Homo sapiens: one gene and its partners. The protein of the gene in region 1 purifies or fractionates together with the protein of each later gene. This does not show direct contact. Each region holds a gene or a part of one and is shown on either strand. Other genes may lie near its edges.

Region 1 (7,027 bases):
GGGACCACAGGCATGTGTCACCACACCGGGATAATTTTTTTATTTTTTTTATGGGGTCTCACCGTGTTGCCCAGGCTGGTCTCGAACTCTCGGGCTCAAGTGATCCTCCCGCCTTGGCCTCCCAAAGTGCAGGGATTGCGGGAGTGAGCCACCACTCCTAGCCCATTTTTTTTTCTTTGAATATTTGTCCTTACCCACAAAGCATGAATTTGTTAGTGAAATTCATTCATCTTTGTTCTCTACCCCCATTGATGGAGTTGCCAATGGGTTGGAAAAGTGTGATAATACTCATTTCTCTCTACTCTTTTTGAGCCGTGCTTAGTTTTGCAGCCCTCTTCTGGCAGCTATGACCTAGCTTTGTGGTTTGTGTATGTATGAGTATATATACATATATATGTTTTCTGACCTTAGTTTCTAGTTCCGTTTTATATCCCTACCCCATCCTCCTTGTTGATACATAACAAGTGTAGCATTCATCCTGTCTGAGTTCCAGTCCTGCTTCACAGCTTGCTAGCTGTCAGTCTTTCTGCACCTCTGATTCCTTATGACAGAGATAATATGTACCAATCCTCCCGGGTTGGTTGTGAGTGCTAAGATATATATTCATTGGCCGGGCACAGTGGCTCACGCCTGTAATCCCAGCATTTTGGGAGGCCGATGCAGGTAGATCACTTGAGGCCAGGAGTTCAAGACCAGCCTGGCCAACATGGCAAAACTCTGCCTCTACTAAAAAAAAAAAAAAAAATTAGCTGGGCGTAGTGTTGCACTCCCAGCTACTTGGGAGGCTGAGACACAAGAATCCCTAGGAGGCAGAGGTTACAGTGAGCAGTGATCATACCGCTGCACTCCAGCCTGGGTGACAGAATGCAGTTTTCTCAAAAAAAAAAAAAAAAAAAAAAGGCCATGTAAAGTCCTAATGAGAAGTAAGCACGCAGTGAATGTTAACTAAAGGAAGGCTGAAAGTTTTAATCATAAGTGTCACCCATTTTCTTTTGTAAGAAATGCAAAATGAATAGATGTGCCAATATGCCTTTTCTTTGGTAAATATACTTCAAAGGAGTTTTTTTTATATAGTGGCTATAGAACCCTGAAAAGTAGTGGTGCCTGTTATGTGAACCACACAGTACTGGAATTAATAGCAGTTGTGTGAAGTATCTTTACTCCTGACTTGGTCTACTTAATACTTGCCCTACCTTTCTAGGGCAAGAGTAGCAGGCATGTAGAAAGAAAATATGAGAAAAATAAAGAGTCAAACCTAATTATATAAACTATCTTTAATCCTTGTGATTCAATTTTTGGGTTTTTTAAAAATACCTTTTTTTATTCTATTGGAAATACTATTCTATAGGAAGTTACATCGTATGATGGTGGTTTTTCCTTAAATTTCTATTCTAATTCAGATTGCCTAAAAACTGAAGGAGTCGGCTGGTCATGGTGGCTCACCCCTGTAATCCTAGCACTTTGGGAGGTCGAGGTGGGCGGATTGTCTGAGCTCAGGAGTTCGAGACCAGCACGGGCAACATGGTAAAACCCTATCTCTACTAAAATACAAAAAATTAGCCGGGCATGGCGGTGTGTGCCTGTAGTCCCAGCTACTCGGGAGGCTGAGGCAGGAGAATTGCTTGAACCCAGGAGGCAGAAGTTGCAGTGAGCCGAGATCGCCACTGCATTCCAGCCTGGGCGACAGAGTGAGACTCTGTCTCCAAAAAAAGAAAGCTGAAGGAGTCCACTGAAATCAAGACCAGAGTAGTACTAGTAAAGGCCTATTTTGAGGTAGTTGCAAAAATAAAATCTATCCTAGTGCCAGTGGGTGAATGACTACAAAAAATAAAGAGTATGAATGGTATGGTGTGTCTGGCTTCCAAGGTTAATTTCTGCCTAGTGAAAAATTGTTTGCATAAAATAGCAAGGCATGTCTTCTGAGAAGACTAGCTCTTAACACTAGCTTAAATTAGCAATCCAGCTTTTGAAGCTAATTGTGAATTTGACTCCTCTTGTGTGTGCAGAGAAATTGCTTCTGTGATTCATTCCTGCATCAGCAGTATGCAGTTATTTTAGAAGATTGTGTGCCAAGAGAGCCAGGCTGGCACTGCTCAGGACACTCTGTGACTAGAACTATATTTAACTGTTGTCTCAGAAAGAGTAAAAATTTTAAGCTCTTTGACCTGTTAAATTTTATAACTGAAGAACCTTGGTGATGATTCTTTAGGTGGGGAGGGAAATTCAGCCAATGTGTGTGCTGGCAGATCTTTATTCTGATGATTATAAAGTACGTATTGAGAAAAATGTCGAGGCTTGTGTAGAAGTATAAATATGTAAATTTTATATTGAACTGATGGAAATGTTTCTAAGTCCTGGCGTTAGCCTTGAAATAAGCAGAAATAACTTTAGGATATGACTTCATTCCTAATGTGAAATAGTATGCTTGTTCCTGAATACCCAAAACCATCTTAATGAAGATTAGATTCTGGTAAAAATGAGTGATTTTTGTGAATTGAGAAAATTTTTTTAGATTACTTTCTGTGATTGATTACAGCTTAAAAAATAAAAATAGTGGTCTTGACAGGCAAAATGCCTAACTGGTACTTCCATTTTTAATTTCCCTCGAACAAAAATTAGTGCCAGCTTTGGTGGTCCATTGATAAAATCTAAAATGCAGTGATAAAATAGCTCCTTTCTTAGTATAATGAAGAATGGCATGATTACAGTGAAATAGAGGGTCAAGACCCAATTCTAGTGACTGAACAAATCATTGTTTTCCTTGCTAAGCCAGCCTCTTAGTGGACAGGTAAAGAAATTAAACCAAACTAGACTAGCATGAACTATTGCTAATGGCGGGAAAGTGGACTTTGTTACATTTCTCTACTTTATATATGACGTGTCAAATATATATGACTAGGTAAATATATTTAATACTTAATACTGCCCTTTAACAATAATATACCCTTGCCATAAGATATTTACCTAAGTAGATAAAGTGAAGATATTTGCAATGTAAAATTTCTTTTCATTGCCTGCTTTTATTGCCGTGTGTGCCTTTTATTCTTATTTGAAGATCTTGCAGAAATTTTTTCTTCACAGTCTTTTCTCTTCAGTACGAATGTTATAAAAGACTTGGTGAATGAAGCCCTTCCTTGGTAAAAGGAAATGAAAATGCCAGAAATTGAAGATGGAATTAATGCTTAATTAATTTTCCTAGATTGTTTTCTGAATGTAGTTTTTTCTAAGAAGAATGATATTAAAGTTACAGAAGTAATCTGTATAAGAAATCTGAGTCTGTGTTAAATAGAAATTTTTTATTGTTTTGAACTGATTTCCTTCAAGTAAATGTAATGAAATGTAAACCTAATCCAGATTGTTTAAAGAAACTTGTATGAAGACATCTTTTCTTCCTTAATGACCAAATGTGATCTAATAGTTCCTGTACGTTACTTTTCAACTCTAAATTTCATTAATAATCATATTAACGGCCGGGCATGGTGGTTCGCGCCTGTAATCCCAGCACTTTGGGAGGCCAAGGCAGGCGGATCATGAGGTCAGGAGATCCAGACCATCCTGGCTAACATGGTGAAACCCCGTCTCCACTAAAAATACAAAAAAAAAAAAATCAGCCAGGCGTGGTGGCAGGCGCCTGTAGGCCCAGCTACTCGGGAGGCTGAGGCAAGAGGATGGCGTGAACCCAGGAGGCAGAGCTTGCAGTGAGCCGAGATCGCGCCACTGCATTCCAGCCTGGGTGACAGAGGGAGACTCCATCTCAAAAAAAAAAAAAAAAAAATCATATTAACCCTGGGAAGGAGTTCTGTGTATTACAGATTCCGTTTCCTTTCCAGAGAATGGGAGAGCTCAAGCACTCAAGCTTAGAACTGGTTTGCTGTTGTGTCCTTTGTAATTTAGAAATATTTATCATCATTCCTTGTAAACTGTTTTTTGACTGAGATACTTTTGTGATCAAATGAATTAAAAGACAATCCTGAGGTGCAACCTGAGATTCCTGACTTGCGTTATAATAGCATCATGTTACACCAAAAATGTGGAAGACTCCATTGGAGATCTATTAAGTGAATATTTTATACAAAGACAATCGTTTTTATGTTGAGACTGGGATACAGTGGTGAATTTAAGTGTTCTCACCTATTCAATCTTAGAAAAAAGCTTATTTGAATTAACTTTTTAGCATAGTTGGATTTTTTTTAATATGCAGGATACGGTGTGTAGGCTGTAGTTTAATTTTGCTCAAAATCTCTTTTTTTTTGTTTTTTTGTGATGGAGTCTCTCTCTCTGTCATCCAGGCTGGAGTGCAGTGGTGCCATCTCGGTTCACTGCAAGCTCCGCCTACCGGGTTCATGCCATTCACCTGCCCCAGCCTCCCGAGTAGCTGGGACTACAGGTGCCTGCCACCACTCCCGGCTAATTTTTTGTGTTTTTAATAGAGATGGAGTTTCACCATGTGAGCCAGGATGGTCTCGGATCTCCTGACCTTGTGACCTGCCTGCCTCAGCCTCCCAAAGTGCTGGGATTGCAGGCGTGAGCCACTGCGCCCAGCTCAAAATCCCATCTTATAGAGAGGGAAATAATTTTCATCTTCGTTTAAAAGAGTTCCGCATGATATTTATGTCCTGGATGATGAGAGCTCAGAATTGGTTCAGTGTATTCTCGACTTGGCTTGAGTAGCAAAAGAGGCGCTTGTTCCTGTGGGCAGTGAAGAAGAAAGGAGAGGATTGGTTGACAGAATGCTGCCACTGTGTAGTTATCCCGTACATTCAACAGATTTTAGTTGAACCACTATGTACCAGACTGTTCAAAGTGCTAGAGATTCAGCTGTGAAGAGGGGACACGATTAATGAACACCAGGCATTGATTCTTGCTGGCAAGAAAAAGCAGAAGATGGGGACAGTGATGGGCTTGAATTCAAGAGACTCTTTTTTTTTTAATAGGGTGGTCATAGAAAACCTTCCAAATTCTTTATAATGTGGTTTACTTTTGTAATTAAAAAGGATTTTGCGAGAGTTAGAAGGCACAGTCCCTAACACTGTTCTCACCTCTGACACCATCTTCAAAAGTTTAGTCATGATGTACCTTCAGAACAGCAGACAAAAAATAAAGTTCAGTGAACTATAAATTACAGGGAACACTGCCCAGGACTGCCTCAGTTTTGGCACCAATATACTAGTTCAGTGGGTTCCGAAAACCACTCTTAGGTTCAGTGATTCACAGGAATGACTCACAGAACTCACTTTAAGCTGTTACACTGATGATTATGGTTTATTACAGGGAATGAATACAATTTAAAGTAAGCCAAGGGAAAAGACTCATAAGGGCAGAGTACAAGAGGGGCTGACATCTGTAGTGTCCAGTCCTCCAGAGACCAAACTGATAGTGGGATCATCCAAAGTCCGCATCGTGAGTCACATTGTTAATGGTCCGCAGGTCAGAGCCCCCAGGCAGAGATCTCTTTACCAAGCAGGAAATTCCAGGGGCAAAGGCCAGACCTCTCCTCGGGTGAGGTTAATTCTTCACTATACAGATTTTTATTCCATAGCAAATTCTGAGGGACGAGAACCTTAATAATAATAAATGGCAATACCAAAATACATGAAGAAAACAAGGCTAGATTTATCAGAATTGTGGAGTGTGTGCAATGTGAGGGATTTTTCCAGTTGAGTTGGCATATTCTTTTTTTGTTTTAAGTTTGTATTTTGTCAACTGGGCACAGTGGCTTATGCCTGTAATCTCAGCACTTTAGGAGGCCGAGGCGGGCGGATCACGAGGTCAGGGGTTTGAGACCAGTCTGGCCAACGTGGTGAAACCCCATCTCTACTAAAAATACAGAAATTAGCTGGGTGTGGTGGCACGCGCCTGTAATCCCAGCTACTTGGGAGGCTAAGGCAGGAGAATCACTTGAATCCAGGAGGCGGAGGTTGCAGTGAGCTGAGATGGAGATCGCGCCACTGCACTCCAGCCTGGACGACAGAGCAGGACTCCGTCTCAAAAAAAAAAAAAAATTGTATTTTGTCTTTTCTTGGTTGTATAAATTCTCCAAAAGTTAGCCATTTAAAAATGTTTAAGGTCTTATTTTCTACTTTGTGATATGTGTGTATAATTTTTACTGTGCAAGTTTTAGCATTTTTGTATAGTCTGATTGTCCATCTTTTCCATAAACTTTAAGCGCACATGAGAATCACTTGGGAAAGAAATAGGAAATTCATGTTCCTTGACTCCATTCCAGAGACTGATTGACATGTCTTGGGCAGGTCCAGGAAGCTGCTTTTTTTTTTTTTAAAGGCAGGATCTTACTGTCGCCTAGGCTGGAGTACAGTAACATGATCATAGTTCACTGCAGCCTTGTACTCCTGGACTCAAGCCATCTTCACGCCTCAGTCTCCTGAGTAGCTGAGACTACAGGAATACACAACCACACCTGGCTTTTTTTACTCATTTTTTTGTAGAGACAGGGTCTCCTCATGTTGTCCAAGGTGATCTTGAACTCCTGGACTCAAGTGATCCTTCTGCCTCGGCCTCCAAAAGTGCTGGGATTACAGGTGTGAGCCACTGCCCCCGGCCTCCTTTGTGCTTTCAGTGTCATGAAATACCTGTATTTGTCAAGAAGATTAAGACCATGTCTTAAAAAAAAACAAAAGCTAGTGAGATACAAGAGATAATCTTAAATATACCTATAAAGTCCTAGGAACTGTTCGTCTGATTTATTTAGGAGCCGAAGTAAAAGTGATCTTTCCTGACAAATACAGAAAGAGATTTTTGCTAGCATCACTTCTTCCAAAACAATTTTCCTCATTTATGCAATAAGTTTGGATTTTCACTTCTTTATGTCACTAAGTTTCTGCGTGTTGCTAAGTTCCTGGCTGCATATTTGGAGTCTCTCCAACAGCAGCATTGTCAGCATTCCCACAGTCGGTTCTTCCGTGTACTTTTGATTTGAATTTCATTTCCAGGGTTATGTCTTGTGTGTTTGGCTTCTCTCTTTTAGCATAATATATCCAAGATTCCTCCATATTGTAGCATGTATCTG
Region 2 (7,027 bases), on another chromosome or scaffold:
AGGTGGAGGTTTTACTGAGCAGAGATCACCACTGCATTCCAGTCTGGGCTGGTGACAGAGTGAGACCCTGTCTCCAAAAAAAAAAAAAAAAAAAAAGTACCAGTCAGGTGTACATGTTCTCTTAAAACAGTTTTTAGATATTACATAAATTCAGAGGTTGGGGGAATGGAGATTTGAGTTTCTTCTTAGAATTTATCAGTAATTTGTTTTTCCTCTCTTCCTACAATAGCGGCCCTGTTCTGTCATTAGCTATTAGTTCTAATGGAGAACAGTGTTTTAGTGGTGGTATTGATGCAACCATCCAGTGGTGGAATATGCCGAGTCCCAGTGTAGATCCATATGATACATATGGTAAGTAAAATGATCAAAATGTATTTTTTTTAAGTGAATGGAGCTGACAAAAGTAAATACCTCAAATATGATTACAAGGTTATTTAAACCTATATTAGTCACCTCATTTAGTTCTTCCATTTGCTAATAAATTGCTTTATTAAAGAGAAAAATTAGGAAATGTCATGCCATGGGTATTTAAGCCTATGAATTGATACTTTCTCTGTTGTTTAAAAAACTATATTAATTAAAATGTTAATTTAGGTAGTAGTTACAAAAAGAAGGAGGAAACAAAATGTAATCTAAGTAACAAAATTTTGAACTTAAGAAATAGTTTATATATTTTAAAAATATTAAGCAAAAGACAATGGAACCAACATCAGGGGTATAAATCATTAAAACTTTTTGGAGCCAAAAATTTTTTTTGTTATTCTTAGCTCATATCTACAAAAACATTCTTAATTTCAAAATGGAAGAAAAAAAAAAAGAAAGGAAACCTCCTTTGACTTGCAAATGTAGCTTTTAGAAATCTGTTCTACAGAAACACCTACCTGTACCTGTGTTCAAATATATTTGTAAGGGCACTGTTAATAATTATAAAACGTTAAAACAAAATGTTTATGAACTCTTTGTTCTTTTTATTTAACACACACATTGTGCCTACATTAGCTAGGCATTGTGGTAAGCACTATGTCAAGAAATAAGATTTAGACTAATGGAAAGTAGAGACATAAAACAGATAAGCGAAGGGATGGGATCTATGGTTACAAATTGTGATAAATGATAAGAAGATAGAGTACTGTTGAGAGGGCGTAACAGGCAGAACCTTCTCTAGAAGAGTTAGTCAAGAAAGGTCTTTCTAAAATAGTGACATTCAAGCCAAAATCTGAAGGATAAGAGGAAACTTTCAGTAAAGAGTTTTAAGCCAGAAAGTTATCTGATAAATGTAAGGTTTTAAAAAGGTGACTGTGTCTGTTGTGAGAAGAATAAATTGGGGGCGAGAAGAGTGGAAAGAGAAATACCAGTTAGGAGGCTGCTGTCATAAAGTAGTCCAGTAAACTAGGTGACAAACGACATTGCCAAGATTAGAGTGGTGGTAGCACAGCATTTAGAAGTGGTTTTAAGATACGCTGAGGGAGTGTGGTAGAATAGACAGGATTTATTGATAAATTATGTTGAGTAGATAAAGTGATGGGTGAGTGACTCTTAATTTGTATGTGTTTAACTGCTTTACTGAGATAATTTACATATCACAAAATTCACCCTTTTAAAGTATACAGTTCAGGCTGGACACAATGGTCCATGCCTGTAATCCCACCACTTTGGGAGGCCGAAGTGGGTGGATCACTTGAGGCCAGGAGTTCAAGACCAGCCTGGGCAACACAGTGAGACCTCATGTCTGCCAAAAATTTAAAGATTTGCCAGATGGGGTGTCACATGCCTATAGTCCCAGACACTCGGGAGGCTGAGCTGGGAGGATCACTTGAGTGTGAGAAGTAAAGGCTGTAGTGAGCTATGATGGTGCCAGTGTACTCCAGCCTGGGAAGAGAGTGAGACCCAATCTCTCTCTCTCTCTCTCTTTCTTTTTTGGAAACAGTCTTGCTCTGTCTCCTAGGCTGGAGGGCAGTGGCGTGATCTTGGCTTACTGCAACCTCCGCCTCCCAGGCTGAGGAGCTGGGACCACAGGTGTGAGCCACCACACCGCACTAATTTTTGTATTTTTTGTAGAAATGGTGGCCATGTTGCCCGGGGTGGTCTTAAACTCCTGGGCTCAAGTGATCTGCCTGCCTCAGCCTCCCAAAGTATTGGGATCACAGGCATGAGCCACTATGTGCAGCCACAAGACCCCATCTCTAAAAAAAAATTAAAGTCTACAGTTCAGTAGTTTTTACTATGTTCACAAAGTTGTACAGCCATCATCACTAATTTCAGAACATTCACAAAGTTTTACAGCCATCATCACTAATTTCAGAACATTTCAAACATTCAGAACATTCAGTCCTGTTTGATGTGAGTAACTGAGCATGTGATGGGAGCATTTATTGAAACGAGGACAGAACAGGTGTGAGGAGATTTAAGATGGTGAGTTCAGATTTTAGGCATGTTAAAGGATGACAAATATCAAGTAGGTAATATACAAATAAGGAGCCCAAAGAGATCTCGATTGAAGTTAAAAACATGGACAGTCTTCTCTATACAAATAATACATTAAACTATAAGAATGGGCAATACTGGGGGAGTGTATTGTTTGGTGTAAGAAGAGAAGACAACCTGGGACTAAAGTCCTCAGTAACTCTGACACTGGAAGAGTGGCTAGAGCAAGAGAGCCAAGAAAGGAAACTGAGGAGGTGTGACCCAAGAGACAGAAGGAAGTGCAGGAGAGGGTGCGAAATCATGGAAGCGCACACTAAAGAAGAAACAATTTTGAGAAGAAAGAAGCAGTCTGCACTTTCGAATGTTGCTGAGAGGTCCAATAATATGATATAAAGTTTCCTTTTTATAAGTGACTAGCAGGTCACCCAGGTCTTGGCCAGACAGAGTTTGGACGCTGCAGCTAAGACTGAAGAATGAAGGGACCTCTGGATAATCTTTCATGTCAGACTATATGGATGAAAAGCAATATAATGGGAACAACAACAAAATGTTTTGTATCATCAAAGAAAAGTATTAAATTTGATAGTGTAGGGATCATCATTAGCAAGGATTGTTTTGGTGTGGTAGTGGTATCAGAAACCAAATTGGAGTGATTTGAAGAGTAAACAGGAAGTGAAAAGCATATTTCTATTGCTGGGTGGAAGGGGTGGTAGGATAGGATTAATGAAGATTTTTTGTTGAAGAGATTCTGGAACAAGTTTTTTTTCACTATGGTAATGATTCCAAGGAGGAGAATTTGTGTAGTAGAGAAGCAGTAAACATTACAGCAAGTTAGTGACATCTGGTATTAGCCTTTGATAGGATGGAGGACAGATTCCTTGCTTGTATCTGGAAGCTAGGAGAAGATACCTTTAGACACTAATCATTTATATATTACGCAGCAAGAAGATGGGGGATAAGAAACATGCAGCATTATTTGAATGCTATATTTTCTCAGTGAAATATGAGGCATAGTCATTCATGAGGAAGAGAGGTTGGGAGCTGTGAGAATTGTGGAGATGATAAGAACCATTCATGGAAAGTGGGAGGAGTTTACTAGAAAAACAGGATTGTCAGACAAATTATGCTCAATGTTATCAGCTGTCAAATGTCTGTCAGTTAAGGAACAGATAAATAAAATATGGTATATCCATACAGCAGAATATTATTTGGCACTAAAAATAAATGGAGTACTGATACATGCTCCAACATGGATAAACCTTGAAAACATGTTCAGTGACCAGGAGTTCAAGGCTGCAGTGGACTGTGACCATGCCACTGTACTCCAGCCTGGGTGATAGAGCAAGACCCTATTTCAAAAAGAAAAAAAGAAAACATACTCAGTGAAAGAACCCAGTCACAAAAGACCACATATTGTATGATTCCATTTATAGAAAATGTTCAGAAAGACACATCTATAGAGACAGAGCATTAGTTGTTGCCTAGACTTGTGGAAAGGTGGGGAGGAGGAATTGGGGGAAGTGACTAATGAGTGATGAAAGTACCCTAAAATTGATTGTCATGATGGTTGTATAACTCTGTGAACAACATACCAAAAATCATTGAAGTATACACTTTAAATGAGAGAGTTGTATGGTATGTAAATTATATCTGTATCTCAAGAAAGCTGTTTTAAAAAAAAAAAAAAGCATATGTTTCTTTATAGAAAATTGTGAAAATACAGAAAAATGTTGATGGGAGGAGGGTATAAAAGTAGGCCATAACTCTACTCTTAGATATAGCCACTATGTACACTTTAGTTTATCTTCTTGTGGCCTTTATGTGTGTTCTTTATGCTCAGTTATATGGTAAGTTTTCTTTATGTATCAAAGTTTCTTTTAAACTTCTTTTACCTAATTTTTTGTTTGTTTGTTTTTTCCCCAGAGCCAAATGTTCTAGCTGGCACTTTAGTTGGTCATACAGATGCAGTTTGGGGTCTTGCTTATAGTGGCATAAAAAATCAATTACTGTCTTGTTCAGCAGATGGCACTGTTAGGTTATGGAATCCACAAGAAAAATTGCCATGTATTTGCACTTACAATGGAGATAAAAGTAAGTAAATTTTGCATCTGTGAGAAAAGTTAGTTTTTTTAAAAAATTGGAATATATAAAGGACAAAGTAATTGATGTATTTCTTTACTGTTCCAAAGAGATATATTGAATGAATTTTGTAAAAGTTAGGATAAACTTTTTACTCATTTTTTTGAAGTGCTTTGCAACTATGTCCTGTAGTGCAATGCTTTTTTACCTTTTTTGTATTCCATTTTTTAAAAATGTAAAACTATTGTATATAACAGTGGAATAGACAAATGAGGATACTCATAGGGACAACAGGAGGCACACCACCTGTTCCAGACGACTACCCCACAAAGACCGAAGGGATCACAGTCTCAAGCATACCTATAAACCCTGTGTTCCATTACCTCGAGCACACTAGTTGAGTAGTCCAGCCATAGTCACTGAACCCCTAACTGGAACAGTACAAATTGGGTTATTTTCATGATTTTAAATATTTTCCTATTTAAAAAGGCTTTAACCAGTTTACCTTTTGAAGACATTTACTGGTCTTATTTTCCAAGTCATTTTAAATTTTTTTAATTAGACCTTTTATTTGTACATAAAAATACATATTGTTTTAAAACATTTTAGGTGAATAGTAAATATATAATTTTGTGTCTCTTAGACACCGTAGTGATTGTACTAATTTTCAGTTATCCAAGCTTTAGAGGTAAGAATTCATTTAGGTATTTGTTTCTGGCTTCATCTAGATAGTTAATAGCTTGGCTCCATATTCCATCTAATTGTGCATTGATCTGGCTAGTTTAATTTAGTATGTTAAAGAGAGAAATTGCTGCTCAGGCCATTTTAGGGTAAAGTACTGCATCAGCTGATTCCAGAGTCCAAGCCATTTTCATGAGTCCAAAAATCTGACTTGTATTAGCTGCTTGATAAGGCCTACAGATCTCTGATAGGTGAACCAGTCTCCCAAAGTTATGTGAGAATGCTAATTTATCATTTTACAGTAAGAAGTATAATTGGCAAATTGGCCAAAAGACTAGGATTTTATTTAATCCCTTAGAAGAAAACGTGTAATAGAACAAATAACTTTTGCATGTATTTACTCTTTATGAGCTCTGTAGTTATATTTTTCTTACAATATTAAATAGAATGCTATAAAGTTTTTAAATAATTGAGGAAAAGATATTTCTTATCTCACCATCCTGACACAGTTGTGTTCCTTTTCATTATTAACAGTATTTCAAGACTATTTGAATTCCTTTTTCTGATTAGAAAAACAGAGATTTCAAAAAGTAGAGATTTCATAGTAATTTTACTTTGTTTACATTGTCTGTCTTTGGGCTCATTTCAGAGCATGGAATACCTACATCAGTTGACTTTATAGGCTGTGATCCAGCTCATATGGTAACCTCTTTCAACACTGGTAGTGCAGTAATTTATGATTTAGAAACATCACAGTCATTGGTGATACTTTCATCACAGGTAGATTCTGGTAAGTTTTCATGGAGTTTCTTTGAAACCTTAAAAAGGGTTATTACACAATAGAGGGTGATCTTTTAGCTAATTTTCATATTTTCACTATTTGAATTTAGGATGGCAAAATAATTAGTTTCATAATGTTACAGTTATACTTATTTATATTATGTCTGCTTTTTCTTCAAATTTTGCTTAAAAGCTTGGGTGGACATATGGGAAAAGAGGAATGTCTAGAGCAATATGAAGGTGAAAGTAGAGAAAATAACATAATGAACTTAATGTACTCAGCATTCAGTTTTAATACCTATCTATAAATGCCCAGTATTACACATGCATTATGTGGTGTTTTACAGTTTATTTAGATAGGGATCACATAAGATTTATGTATTGCAGTTGTTTGATAGGTCTCTCAGGTCTCTCTTCATCCATAGATTCCCCTTCATCTCTTTTATGTTCTTTTTTTTTTTTTTTTAATTGACGAAATTGGCTACTTTGTCTTGTCAAGTTTCCGACAGTCTGGATTTTGCTAGTTGCATTCCTGTGTTATTTAATGTGCTTCTCTATTTCTATTCACAGTTCTCCTGTGAATTGATTATAGATCTAAAGACTTATTCAAATTCAGGTTCACTGTTTTTTTCTTTTAAAAATTTTTAAATGTTCTTGGCAACTTTACTTCATAAGTAATTTGTAAGCTTTTATCAGAGGTGAGTATTTTCTGGTTGTTCATGTTTTTGTGATGTTTTCAGTCTGGATTATTTCCTGGGTTCATTCATTTTCTATTGAAAGATTTTCTAATTTTATCATTCCCTCTCCATTTATTAGCTAGATTATTCCTATAAAAAAGAACATCTCTTTATCAACAATTTGGTTACCTTGGAGTTAGTGTGTATTAAGGAAAAAGGCAAGATAAATGATTGGGTTTTGGTTTTCCCCTTTATTTACCAGTTTTTAAAATAATGAGTTGGTTTGCTAGCACCCTCTAAAGGTGACCAGTTTGTCTTGGGTGGTGTTTTTGGTATCATCATACTCTCTCATGGATATAAATGTATTTGATGTGTTTTGATCCATT
Region 3 (7,027 bases), on another chromosome or scaffold:
TCCTTGGCCTTCCTTTGGCCTCCCAAAGTGTTAGGATTACAGGCGTGAGCCAGTGTCCCTGGCCAAAAACATTTTAAAGAAACAAAAATTAGCCACGCATGGTGGCACGCCCCTGTAGTCCCAGGTACTTGGGAGTCTGAGACAGGAGGATTGCTCGAGTCCAGCAGTTCAAGGCTGCAGTGAGCTATGATGGCGCCACTGCACTCCAGCCTGGGTAACAGAGAGAGATCCTGTCTCAAAAATAAATAAATAAATAATAATGTCCTCAAAATTAAATTGATGAAGATGTCAATTTTCTCAAATGTGAATGAAAATGTAACTACCTCAAATACCATAAATATTCACCTATACGATTAACAAAGACTTGTCTCTCTTAATACTATGTCTGGCCACTCAGTTGACCAAGCTTTCCTGTTTCTACATAATATTATAAAAATATATACACTCAAATATCTAAATATTTTTCAAGGAGGTGAAAGTGTCCTCAAAGAAGACGCAGTCTACGTCTGCCTCACGCTACAAATGGTCTCACACAGGACAGGGTGCGGCCTCTCTCAGTGGACACAGTAGTGAGATACAAGTCTCACTTTCTAGGATAAGGGTTGGATGAACTCTCATACAATTACAAGACTCAAGCATATTGACAAATGGAAACAGAAGTACCAGTTTAATTTAATTGGATGCAACTACCTGAAGTCTACAAGATGATTACTATACAGTTTCAAACACTTAAGGCTAGGACCAGAACTTTTTGCTTGAGAAATACCTGTCCTCCACCCCCAGAATTCACTATTTTCAAGTTGTTCCCTATTTATAAAATGACTAAAGTTAGCAAAGTCTAAATATTACAAGTGATAGGGGAAAAAAGCTCAACATCACCGATTAGACAAATGCCAATCAAAACCACAATGAGACAGCATCTCACACCAGTCAGAATGGCTATTGTGGAAAAGTCAATCAGTAACAGATGCTGGTGAGGTTGTGGAGAAAAAGGAATGTTTTCCTGCTCTTGGTGGGAGGGTAAATTAGTTCAACCATCGTGGAAGACAGTGTGGAGATTCCTCAAAGACCTAAAGATGGAAATACCAACCCAGAAATCCCATTACGGGGTATATACCCAAAGGAATATAAATCGTTGTATTATAAAGACACACGCACACGTATGTTCACTGCAGCACTATTCACAACAGCAAAGACAAGGAATCAACCTAAATGCCCATCAATGATAGACTCCATAAAGAAAATGTGGTACGTATACACCATGGAATACTATGCAGCCATAAAACAGAATGAGATCATGTCCTTTGCAGAGACATGGATGGAGCTGGCGGCCATTATCTTTAGCAAACACAGAAACAGAAAAACAAAATACCTCATGTTCTCACTTATAAGTGGGAGCTAACTGATGAGAACACAGGGACAGACAGAGGGGAACAACACACACTGGGGCCTATCAAAGGGTGGAGGGTGGAGGATAGGAGGAAGAAGAGGATCAGGAAAAATAACTAGGCTTGGTACCTGGGTGATGAAATAATTTGTAAAACAAACCGCCAGGACACAAGTTTACTTATGTAACAGACCTACACGTGTACCCCAAACTTAAAAGTTAAAATAAAAAATTAAAAAATAAAAGTGATAGGTCTTAAAAGAATTTCAAAATTCTCTGCATATTAATCTCTGCCACATAATCTCCTGCTGTAGCCAAAGAATAGAACCTTAGGTGACATACTACATGCAAATGTTCTTCCTGTGGTGAATTCCTACATGAAATTACTCAACGTCAAACTACCAAACTGAAAAGCAGACATTCAACGGTTGAGGCGCCTGACAAGGGACAAAGCGCAGGTTAGAAAGTGACAGGAAGGGCACCTGAGAAAGCACTCAGCCTCACTGTTTCATGATCAAATAGTTTCTCTCTTTTTTTTTTTTGAGACGGAGTCTCGCTCTGCCGCCCAGGCTGGAGTGCAGTGTCCCGATCTCGGCTTACTGAAAGCTCTGCCTCCTGGGCTCACGCCATTCTCCTGCCTCAGCCTCCCGAGTAGCTGGGACTACAGGCGCCCGCCACCACGCCTGGCTAATTTTTTTGTATTTTTTAGTAGAGACGGGGTTTCACCGTGTTAGCCAGGATGGTCTCGATCTCCTGACCTCGTGATCCGCCCGCCTAAGCCTCCCAAAGTGCTGGGATTACAGGCGTGAGCCACCACGCCCGGCATTCATGATCAAATAGTTTCTCACAGTTATAATGGCAGAAATATTTGTCAGCAATGAGTATATTGTGACATATTTTTGCTATACGATCCTGATGACCCATGTAGAAGCAAATTCCACTCTTGATTGTTTGACCATTAATATTCAACGCCACAAATTCCTTGAAGGAGCAGGTCAGAAAATGAGAAGACCGCCAGCAACGCCCCCTCCCACAGTTAAGAGACTATACTCACATTGCCCTACGTGAGCTAGCACAGCCAGTATCAATATCTGCTTGCTAAGTATGTGTGCAACAGAAGGCAATCTGAACATAAGAACAAATTAAGACAGCCTAGAAATTGCACAGATGAAGAATCTACAAACAAGGACATTAAAGAATATTAAAGCAGCACAGGTAGGAGAGGCCAGTGTGGCGTCCACTTCATGGCCATGTCAGTCAGTGGGACTAGTTCTCTACTTTGAAGAGCTCAGGGACAGGAGATTTCACAACAAAAATGGGGAGGTAGCTTATGGCAGTTTCACAGCACTCTCTCTTTTTCAATATAACTTATACAATAATCCAAAGGTTGAAAGTAATTGGGAGAGTAAGAGACAAACAGAGAAAAAAAATCATTTAACTAAAACGTCCCAAACATACAACTTCATGACAAGACTGTAGTTTTTGTTATTGCTCACTTCACGGACATCTCGTTGCAATTTTGTGTTCATTTCTTCAGATTTGATGAGATCTTTTCTAGCCGTGTCCAGATCCTCTTCCAGTTCTGTCACATGACTGGAAAGGGAAGCCAGGCGTTCTTTCATTTGGCTCTGTTCCCTTGACTGCTTACTTATGATTTCTTGGAGCTCAATTACTTTAGCAAGGTCTTCCTCGTGGCTTAAAGAACCATCAGAAGATCTCTGATAGGGGGAAAAAAAAATCCTTAAATACCCTTGTTTGGTGAGCTATAAAATAAAAATACTTCCAGGAAATAGCTAAAATCAAAACTGACTTATGCAATCTGTTGGATTACACAACTTTCATGACCACTTCAGCTCTAAGCCGGTACTTTAGCAACTGTTTTCCACATAACCCGACACATACTGTGAACAAATGAAATCAAACAGAATAAAGACAAAGCCTACAGACTTGCCTTTCCACTCGTGCTTGGTGTATTTTCTTGTTCATGGTTTATGTCCAGCACTCCATCTGTTAGAGTTTTTTTCTGATTATTCTGTTCTTTAAGAATCATTAGCTGAAAGCAAAAAATTGAATATGAGTGTAAAATACCTTACATAAGAGAAATAAGTAAAGATAGCAAAACTCCTTTTGGAAAAACACAACTAAAAACTGCTTAACATAGTATAAAAGAGAAAGCATATGGCAATGCTACCCAATCCGAAAATAACCAGATCATTGAAGATGGAATTTATTATCCACTGGCCAGACGAGTCCTTAGGTAACCATCATTTTGTAGTCCTTAAAATGACTCAGATAGGCTGGTCCTCAATTGGGAAGATAAGTAACATGTGATATGTACAACTACAGTCCTTATACTTCTTTTACTTTTTTTTTTTTTTTTTGGAGACAGAGTCTTGCTCTGTCACCCAGGCTGGAGTGCAATGGTGCAATCTCAGCTCATTGCAACCTCCACCTCCTGGGCTCAAGCAATTCTCATGTCTCAGCCTCCCGAGCAGCTGGGACTAAAGGAACATGCCACAACTCCTGGCTAATTTTTGTATTTTTAGTAGAAATGGGGTTTCACCATGTTGGTCAGGCTGGTCTTGGAACTCCTGACCTCAGGTGATCCGCCCGCCTCGGTCTCCCAAAGTGCTGGGATGACAGGTGTGAGCCACCACGTCTGGCCTTATGCTGCTTTTAATAATTAAAGGATAAAAATAACCCCCCCCCAATTCAACTCATGATGAAGTCTCAAGCTTACCTCTTTGTGTGTGGCACCTAATTCCTCTTCTAACAAACTACATCTTTCAAGTGCTACTCGTAATCGCTCTCTCACCTGAAAATAAAAGGGGTTGAGTTTGTGTGTGTGTGTGTATACTGTTTATTTTATTCTTAATATATAGTTAAGTGTAATATATACACTTAATGTATATATTAGTGTAATATAACATAATAAAATACCATTAATGTCTGTCATTGATCTTACTGTCAAGAAAACTTGTTAATGGCTCTAAATTAAGTTTCAGAAAAATAAATCTTCCCCCGAAATATCAGGTTGTTGCAAAAGTAATTGCAGGTTTTGCCCACAATTACTTTTGCAACAACCTAATACTACCCAATTTGTAACAGCAAATCAATATACATTAGTAATTTTAAGACATTTAAGCCAATTAGTACTTTTTAAACCTACAAAACCCTGTCTTCTTAGAGAAGTTATTTCCAAGAATTCAAGAAGCTTCAAAAAACAAAAGTTACACCAACACTTGTGAAGCTGGCCTAATACACAGCATGTGCACAAACCAAGACTTATGTGGCTGATGGCACCTTTTCATCCAGAGCTTTGTGGTGTTCAAATAAGGACTTCAGTGCTTTCAGCACTTCCACTTCGCTGGACACGCCTGCTGGAGACTGCGCTTGTCTCTTCACCACGGTCATCCTAAGAGACCGCTCATGCCTGGAGACAAGGCATTCCAAATGCTCTAACAGCAGCTGAAATAAAAGGCCAAAATAAAGACTTGTTAAACAGCATTTTTAATTTCATGATTGAATCTGGGGCAAATAACTCCTTTACAGTCTCATACTAAAATGAAGTCCCTTCAATTCCGCAGAAAAACAAATTCCTCTCAATTGTATTAAAATATCATAAATTCTCATCACAAATTTCAAGCCATTAATGTGTGATCATGCTGACTAATCACAGTCTGCTCAGTGGGAAAAGGTATGAAAAGTATTTCAGGCCAGACAGAGTGGGTCGTCCTTTCGTTTTGACACACCGCCCCTCCTCCTGACAGTGGCTCCAGGGGCAGGCAGTGAACAGAAAGGTCACACTCACCCTGGTGTTATTCCTTTCTGCTTTCAGTTCAGCAATTTCTTCTTCCCTTTCAAGGAGCTGTTCCCTGCATACATTGAGTTCTTTAGTAAGTGCTGCGAACTCCTAGAAAATCACAAAACAAAATTAAATAAATAAGAAAGACCCCCTAAAGAAAGCCTTTCATCAAGGCTCCACAGTCTTCACACAAAGGCAACCTCATTACAAGTTATGGGGAAGGGATCTCAGTGATCCTCCAGAGAAAGAGGGCATCAATGGACCACACAGATTCCCTAACAAATCACAACACTGACAGACCATCTGACTTCCCTCTATCCCTGCACCCTGGGACAAGGACAGCAGGGAAAGAAGGGGAATCCAAGTCCACCTTCTCAGCAGCCAGAGAAGTCCAAAACATTTTCCTGAACAGGATCCTGACATGAACTGAATGAAGACATTTTAAATGACTCACAGACATGTGATCTAGAGTTGCTGGAGAGAGAGGAAAGATGGCCTAGAAGGCCACCACCCCTGTCCTAGCCTCCTTTTCTTCCTTTTTCTTTCTGAGACAGGGTCTCATTGTGTCACCCAGGCTAGAGTGCAATGGTGTGACCATGGCTCACTGCAGTTTTGACCTCCAGAGCTCAAGTGACCCTCCCAAGTAGCTGAGACCACAGGCTTGAGCCACCGTGCCCAGCCTCTCTTCTAAAGTAATATTTCTTCTGCAAGAATCCCTACTGTGGGTAATCAACTTCTAGCATGACAGCACAAGAAGCTCCACTGACCTGCTTGCTCCCAAGGAAAACAGGTGAACATTGTAAGAAAACAACTGTTCTGAGACTCTGGAGATCGTTCTAAGGGTTCACAGCAAACAACTGAAAATTCAGTAAGAAAGGCCAGAGTCTGTTGTATTTGAACCAAGACTGCTCCCTGCCTCCCCTTTCCAGGTCAGTGAGGCAGCGACTCTGTTCCAGACTGCTGCAGCTGATAATGTAGTGCCCTCTCCCCCAGTTCCACCCCACCCCAGCTACGTGGTGCTGATGCTGCATCCTGGCTAGTGGAGTCATGGGCAAAGTGGGCCTTCCTACCTCTGTCCAGCCTCCATTCTGGAATGGAGGCTCAACTTTGAGTGTGGCAGGCTGAGAATACTGGGGGTCCTGATCAGCTGTGCCCTGGCTCTGTAAGACGGTAGCTGCAGGGCTGGAGTGACAAGCTGAGAGGGCCCTGGCTGCCGCCATAAGACCAGGGGCGTCATTCAGGGAGAAACGAGTTTGGTGACATTTAAACCTCTTTAAATGTTAGGGCACTAACATTTAAACCCTGGGCACTCTCTTTAAACCTAGGAGCAGTGGAGGTCCTAGTGAAGGCAACTGGAGGTGTGGGTTTAATGGAGGCACAGCCTGGACTGCGGCTGGCTAGTCAGCAGGGAGAGCTGGAGAATTCTTGCTGCAGGAGCCCTCCAGAGTAGGAACAAATCTCCTAAAATGACTTCAGAAACTGTTTCTTAGAATTAGCCACAATTTCACTGAATTGGTTTCTAATTATCCCAGGGCACTGCTGAAGACAACAGAAACATATGTGGGGCTCAGAACTGAGTGTGGTCAGAGAGAGTGGAAGACAGCAGCAGGGTGACTGTGGACACATCCAAAGCTGCGCCTGGCTGGGGAGTAACAGCAGAGGCTGAACACAGCGGGGGTGGGGAGGGGACACAAGCACATTCCACTACATGAATCTAGCATTCACTGAACTGCTTAAGCTGGCAAGTTTTATCTTAGTATATTTTATTGCAATTAAATATATATAGACATTATAAACATATTATACAGTGAGTTTTGGAGACAAGGCTGCTCCTG
Region 4 (7,027 bases), on another chromosome or scaffold:
AATTCTTTGGATATGTACCCAGAAGTGGGATTCCTGGATCATACAGTAGTTCTGTTTTTAATATTTTGAGGAACTGCCTTGATGTTTTTCTTATTGGTTGAACTATTTTACAACTCAGTACACAAGGGTTCCTTCCGAATTCTCCACATCCTCACCAACACTTATTTTTCTCTTTTTTGATAGTAGTCATCCTAATGGGGGTGAGGTGGTATCTCATTGTGGTGTTGCTGTGCATTTATTTATTGATTAGTGATGTTAAGCATCGTTTCATATGCTTATTGGCCACTTCTGTATCACCTCTAGAGAAATGTCTATTCAAGCCCTTTGACCATTTTTTAATCAGGTTACTCGATGTTTTTAGTTGCTGAATTGTAGGAGTCCTTTATATATTCTGAATATTAATCCATTATAAGATATATGATTTGCAAAGATTTTCTCCCATTCCATACACATAGTACCATTTGTCTATTTTTGCTTTTGTTCACTGCTTTTTGGTGTCATATCCAAGAAATCATTACCAAGTCTACTGTCCAGCTTTTCCTCCATGTTTTCTTCTAGGAGTTTTATAGTCTTAGTCTTACTAGGTCTTTAATCCATTTGAGTTAATTTTTGGATATGGGATAAGGCCCCAGCTTCACTTTGGAATATGCATATCTGTTTGGTTATCCCAGTACTGTTTGTTGAAGAGACTGTTCTTTCCCCATTGAGTGGTCTTGGCAGTCTTGTCAAAAATCATTTGACTATTTATGTGAAGGTTTATTTTTGGGCTCTCTATTCTATTCCACTGGTCTATTTGTCTTTACGGCAGTACTAAGCTGTTTCAATTACTGCAGCTTTGTAATTGGGGAGTGTGAGTTCTCCAATTTTGTTCTTCTTCAAAATTGTTTTGGCTAGTCAGTGTCTATGAGATTCCATATGAATTTTAAGGTGATTTTTTTTATTTCCTAAAAAAAAAAGCCATGGGAATTTTGATAGAGATTATATTGAATCTGTGGATTACTTTGGGTAGTATGGACATCTTAAGCATCCAGTGATCTTTAAGATAATATGTTACTATCTCATGTTCACTTTTAGATTTTCATATTGTGGTTGATTCAGTATATTTATTTCAATTATAATGTTTCAAATATTTCAATGGTACAGAAAAATATAGAGAATTATTTATTTTTTCAGCCAATATTTGATTGCATACTCTGTGCTTATCTACAATAAAGATTTAATAAATGTTGACATTTTGTCATATTTGTCTCATATTTCCTTTCAAAATTACTATTGCAGGAACATTATATCATTATCATAAAATATAAGAAAAAATGCTCTACTGACAAATCAACCTATTTTCAGTTTTCCTTTTTAGTACTTTACTATACCACATTTTTCCAGTAGTAATCCTAACTTAGATGACATGTTGTAATCTGTTTCTTGCTTATATTATAAGCATTTTTTCATACTGCAGTATGTTCTTTGTAGTTATTCTTTTGATGAAACATCCTTTTGCCAACCAAGTATAAGAAAGGCTTAATCTTGGCACTACCACTTACTAGCTTTGTGATCTTAAGAAAGTTTCCTAAATTCACAGAAACTAATAGCAATAAAAAGTAAACTTGTAATTATCTTAAAATGAATATTAACAGTGACCCATACAACAAGACTGTTGGAAGGATTGAATGTATATTAAAATGTCTAGGACTTAGTAGGTCCTTAATAAGTGCTAGTTTCCTTCCCTTTCCTTTTCCCAGGGATCTAGTTTTTAATCCTGTTCCTCCAGGGGTTGCCCTCGGAGACTCAGAACTTGCTCTTATTCCTCCAGACCAAGAAAGACCATCCATACACCTGGAGAATTGAACTGGCAAAAACAGAAAAATACTGGGACGGCTGGTTCCGAGGCTTATCCAATCTCTTTCTTAGTTGTCCCATTCCTAAATTGCTGCTCTTGGCTGGTAAGTGTATATGTGCATATATTAGTCAGCTCAGGCTGCCATAACCAAATATCATAGACTGAGTGGCTTAAACAACAGAAATTTATTTTCTCACAGTTCTGGAGGCTGGAAGTCTGAGATCAGGGTGCCAGCATGGTCAGGTTGTGGTGAGGGCTGTCTTCCTGGCTTGCCTTCTCTCTGTGCCCTCACATGGCCGAGAAAGAGTGAATGTGAGCTCTCTGGTGTCTCTTCTCTTAAGGATATTAATTAGGGACGTTCATCCTATCATGTCAGAGCTCTGCCCTCATGACCTGAGGTTACGTCCTTATAGGCCCTAGTTCCAAATACAGTCACATTGGGAATTGGGGCTTCAACATGAGTTTTAGGGGGACACAACTCAGTCCATAGCAGTGTTGGTATATTGTCATCTCAATATGACCTCATTAAAACTTCTCACCAAATGAGTAGTGACATCCAAAGTAGAGTACCTTCCTCATTCATCTATGCCTTTTCTCCTCCCCACACCCAGTCTCTAAACCTAACTAAGCATAAGCATTCATCTAAGCATAAAGGATGACCTAATTCTGGCCTGGCCTGTCTACTTGGTCAAGCTCAAGTCCTTCTTAGTCTAGAGCTAGATGCAGTGGTATAAGGATATTCTGATTATTATGAGAATTAAAATAGTAAAACCTTGTTTTCAGAACCAGTTTAACATAGTAATTATAGGGGAATCTCAACCTGAAAAGTTTTATCTGGTGGTGAGAGTATGCTCTGGGAGTTAGGATTGGTATAAACATGAATGGAGAATGTCATCATATTTAAAACTTTGTAACACTTTTTACTTAATACGTGAACAGCAAAATCTGTTTCACAATGAATTCTCTTGTTTTCTAGGTGTTGATAGATTGGATAAAGATCTGACCATTGGCCAGATGCAAGGTAAGTTATCAAGAAATTATACCCCTGGACCCTTTTCTGAAGAAAGGGTGATAGGGCAGTTAACATCCTGAGATAGTGAGGTATAACGGAGAAAGCATGAGCTTTAGAGTCCGACCCAAGTTGGACATCCGCCTCTACTCCTAACACACTATATGATTATGGGCAAGTATTTCCCTTTCCTGAGCTTTAATTTGTTTAAAAAAAAATCCATCCAAAAATGAAGATTATAATACTACTACCTATGTCTCAGTTATAAGAGTTAAAATGAGGCAATGTGTTTAAAAATTATAAAGTACTGTATAGGTGTATGATACTGTGAAAAGAGATATTCTGACTACTGATCAGTTTTTTGTTTGTGGGTTTTTTTTTTTTTTTTTTTTTTGAATTGGAGTCTCACTCTGTTGCCCAGGCTGGAGTGCGGTGGGACCAATCTCGGCTCACTGCAACCTCTACCTCCCAGGTTGAAGCAGTTCCGGGCCTCACCCACCCCAGTAGTGGGATTACAGGCATGCACCACCACGCCCAGCTAATTTTTGTATTTTTAGTAGAGATGGAGTTTCACCATTTTGGCCAGGCTGGTCTCAAGCTCCTGACCTCAAGTGATCCACCTGCCTTGGCCTCCCAGAGTGCGAAGATTATAGGTGTGAGCCACTGCAGCTGGCCAGTATTTTTCTTATTGTTAGAAGTTTTAGGAAAGGGAAAGGCTCAAGATAATCCAGATATAAAAAGGTATAAATACCTGTTTAGAAGACAGCATGGTAAGATGGTAAAAGTAAGGTCTCTGAAGTTCGGAAAACTGAGTTTTGAATACTGCTTTTCCAGTAATTTTTTGACTCTGGGCAAGTTATCTGACTTGCCTCAGCTTTAGTCTTCTTAATCTGGAAAATGAAAAAACTGATGGCAGCCTCAAACAGATCGTGGGGTATAATGAGTAGGAAAGTGACATGCTGAGCACTGTATACAGATGCATGTATGTTAGCTAGATAACAGTGGAGGCAGCGGGTCCAATTTTGTGGGGGCTCTTGCTTTAGTACGGGTAAAAGACTCAGTGAAGGTGAAGCCAGTAGGCATACAACTTTTGGGTTATGGGAAGAAGAGGTGCCAACTCCAAGACCAAAGTTTCAGGCTCAGGCAGAATCTGTTCTAGACCTTTCTTCCCTACTTACTCTCCCTGGACAATTTCATGGCTTCCATTTATATATTGATGACTCCCAAAGCTAAACATCCACCTCACCCCTCTCTCCTGAGATCCAGTCCTAGCCTATGTAGCAAACCTGCTGGATATCTCATGGGCCTCTCAAACTGTTCTTTTAGCTATCCTCAAGCTTTCCACAGCAAAAGGAGCTATATTCTCTCATAATAGTTGTTCAAAGGCTCTCACATATAAAACTCTGGTCCCAGACCTTCATGGCTTTGCCTTCCTTTAACTACATTGTATCCTGAGGCCTAGAATAGGACTATGAGCTGGGACTGTGTGATTTTTTTTCCATGGCACTGATGTTGGTAATTATGGGCTTAGACACTTATTTAAGTAGATGCTTATAAATGTCTAAGCCCGTAATTACCAACATGAGTGCCATGAAATTGAATCTAAGACACTTAAGTTCAATTCAAGAAACCTTTCCTAGGCACCCTTTCTGTGCAAGACCTATGCATGATGCTGGGCAGACAGAAGAATCAGATATGGCCCCTGAGACTGCCTGAAGGCAGTTGACATGGACTGGGATAGCATTTGAAATCATTGTTGATCACCAGCCTTGGAATCAGACAATCCTGGGTTTGAATCACTGTTAATAGTTTTGCGGTATGAGTGAATTCCTAACTTATTTAATTTTGAGTTTCTTCATCTGTGAAATGGAGATAATGATATATCTCAGTACAGTTACATGAAGTTTAAATGAAAAAAATGCGGGTAGTCTAACAAATGATGCCTTTCATTATATTCAGGAAGTAATCACGATTCCTTATGAGATGTCCTCCTGTTTCCTCAATATGGATTATATCAAGACCACCTTCTGGTTTAAAGAAAGCCTCCTATGAGTATAGAGAGTAAATGGCGAGGATAAGGAACATTCCACAGAACAAAGGGAAATGGCTAAGGCTGCATAGATTCCAAACCACAGCTTTGCCAGCACTGTGTTCAAACCAACTGACTTAGTTATGAAATCCTGGAAAACTACCACCTATTCATAGTACCCCTTGGGTAAATAATTTAGGCTCTCTGAACCTAAGGCTCCTAATCTGTGCAATGGGAGAGAAGAGTTTGGAAATATTCCCACCTCATAGAATAATCATGAGGATTACCCATGAACATGTTATTTTATGTGTACCTGGCACAGTGTTGTTGGTGTATGTGAGTTCTCTCTGATTATACCTACTCTTCCAAAGAGGAAGGACAAATGCGTCCCTAGTCATCAGAGCTGATCTAACAGAAAGAACAGGGAGATTGGAGTTGTAAGTTTTGGATCTAGTCATTTGTTCATCATTCATTCGCTAAAGACTTAAGCATCTACTCAGTGCCCTACCCTGTGTTAGGTCTTATTAGGGATATAGAGCAAGTAATAACACCATTGTCCCCTGTTCTTATGGAAATGACACACTCCTGGGGAGGCAAGCACCAGTGGCATGTAAAATGTAAACTTACTTGAAACTTACAAGAGGGCCATGTGCTGCTCTGTGTTTGGATCCAAGTGCATTAACAACTTTAGGAGCTAGAAGGGAGAGGTGACTAGGCTTGAGCACCCAGAGAGAGGCAGCTTACTGCAGGAGGAGGGGCACAGGATGGACTTTACTAAATGGGATCATCTTATTCCTCCACTAATTAATGAAGTGGCCTTGGGCAGGTTACTTCACTAATCATGGCCTCAGTTTCATCATCTCAGAAAAGAATTTCAGTATTTTTGTGCTTAATTGTATAGGGTAGATTTTGAGAATCAACTTTAAAAATGGATAGAAGAATACACTGAAAACTTTTGAATCCTGCGTAACTGGGGTAAGAACCACAGGATGTAATGACCAGAAGAACTTTCAAGCCCATTCCTTTATTTTATAAATAGAGAATCTGAGGCTGAGAAAATCTGCTGTCTCTACTTATGGGGGCTCTGGGTCTCATATCCTTTAGTCTCCTTAGGGATCTTCTTTATCAGTCATCGCTGTTCATTCTCAATCATTGTCGCATTAGTTACGAGCTTACAGTGTTCTGTAAGACAGTATGAGAAAGTGCTTAGTACAATGCCTGGCACATGCTTAAGTGCTCAGATGGTAACTTATTATTGTAATAATACATTTTGAATCCTTAACATAGCTTACAAAATCCTTAATGGTTTGGCCCCTGCTTACCTCTCCAGCCTTATTGTTAACCACTCTCATAAGCACCATGCCAAGCTTCTTGTATTCCAAGCCATTTCAAGCCTTCCTTCCTTCCTGGTTCCCTCTTGGATTGTGAAGTTCCCTTTCTTATGCTCTTACAGCCCCATGTAGCCAGTTTTATCATAGGAATGACATGCTGCATTAAAATGTTGGTTTTTGTGTTTTACTCCCCTACTGGACTGTAAATCCCCTGAGGACAAGAACTGTTTCTTCTATGTGTCTCTGGCCCACAGTAAATGTACACTAAATAGGACAGAAGGAAAAAGTGAAGGGAAATGATTGGCGCAAGGTTACAATTACTTGTATTACCATCCTCAGCAAGACTTGATAATTGGGTCCAGAGTATTGAGGTGAGGTTGGAAATGGGGAGGTAGGTCCTGGGCTCCTGGAATGACCTATGAGGCTGCATAAGAGAGGGCTCTTTTAGTCGCTGAAGTTGCCTTGCTTTGATTCCTCTCCAGGGAAGTTCCAGATGCAGGTCCTACCCCAGTGTGGCCATGCAGTCCATGAGGATGCCCCTGACAAGGTGAGTCTGGTGCTCAGTGACTGTAAAAGGACAACTGTGAGAATAACCCTGGATGTCACAGAAGACAAGTCTCTGAGTCTCAGCCTGCATTGCCTGCAGCAGCTGCTGTGGAGCCTATGCAGATGCAGTTCCACCAGCTCTCCAACTTCTCCCTGGCAGCTGCTTATGGTATTGGTTTTGTGTATATGTGCTGAGGAGCTACTGACACTCTGCTATTTCATCCCAGGGCCCTGTGGTTAAGATCTTAAGCTCTACTTCTCCAATACCCCCAAAA

Evidence for each region.
Region 2: the proteins of PPP2CB (region 1) and STRN3 purify together in Homo sapiens (affinity purification with mass spectrometry; 7 studies listed by BioGRID and IntAct, with this or other methods). This does not show direct contact.
Region 3: the proteins of PPP2CB (region 1) and PPFIA1 purify together in Homo sapiens (affinity purification with mass spectrometry; 6 studies listed by BioGRID and IntAct, with this or other methods). This does not show direct contact.
Region 4: the proteins of PPP2CB (region 1) and PPME1 purify together in Homo sapiens (affinity purification with mass spectrometry; 8 studies listed by BioGRID and IntAct, with this or other methods). This does not show direct contact.

Annotation. Positions count from the first base shown.
Region 1 is NC_000008.11:30,802,795-30,809,821, reverse strand, and holds part of PPP2CB (serine/threonine-protein phosphatase 2A catalytic subunit beta isoform), read left to right. Parts: intron 1-7,027.
Region 2 is NC_000014.9:30,904,365-30,911,391, reverse strand, and holds part of STRN3 (striatin-3), read left to right. Parts: intron 1-229; coding exon 230-351; intron 352-4,347; coding exon 4,348-4,515; intron 4,516-5,833; coding exon 5,834-5,974; intron 5,975-7,027. UniProt on the Homo sapiens protein: Calmodulin-binding scaffolding protein which is the center of the striatin-interacting phosphatase and kinase (STRIPAK) complexes.
Region 3 is NC_000011.10:70,322,675-70,329,701, reverse strand, and holds part of PPFIA1 (liprin-alpha-1), read right to left. Parts: intron 5,301-7,027; coding exon 5,199-5,300; intron 4,895-5,198; exon of another isoform or gene 4,856-4,894; coding exon 4,691-4,855; exon of another isoform or gene 4,575-4,690; intron 4,203-4,574; coding exon 4,128-4,202; intron 3,441-4,127; coding exon 3,339-3,440; intron 3,106-3,338; coding exon 2,884-3,105; intron 2,603-2,883; exon of another isoform or gene 2,448-2,602; intron 1-2,447. UniProt on the Homo sapiens protein: May regulate the disassembly of focal adhesions. May localize receptor-like tyrosine phosphatases type 2A at specific sites on the plasma membrane, possibly regulating their interaction with the extracellular environment and their association with substrates.
Region 4 is NC_000011.10:74,244,266-74,251,292, forward strand, and holds part of PPME1 (protein phosphatase methylesterase 1), read left to right. Parts: exon of another isoform or gene 1-1,230; intron 1,231-1,768; coding exon of another isoform or gene 1,769-1,810; coding exon 1,811-1,940; intron 1,941-2,813; coding exon 2,814-2,858; intron 2,859-5,880; exon of another isoform or gene 5,881-6,057; intron 6,058-6,688; coding exon 6,689-6,753; coding exon of another isoform or gene 6,754-6,993; exon of another isoform or gene 6,994-7,027. UniProt on the Homo sapiens protein: Demethylates proteins that have been reversibly carboxymethylated. Demethylates PPP2CB (in vitro) and PPP2CA. Binding to PPP2CA displaces the manganese ion and inactivates the enzyme.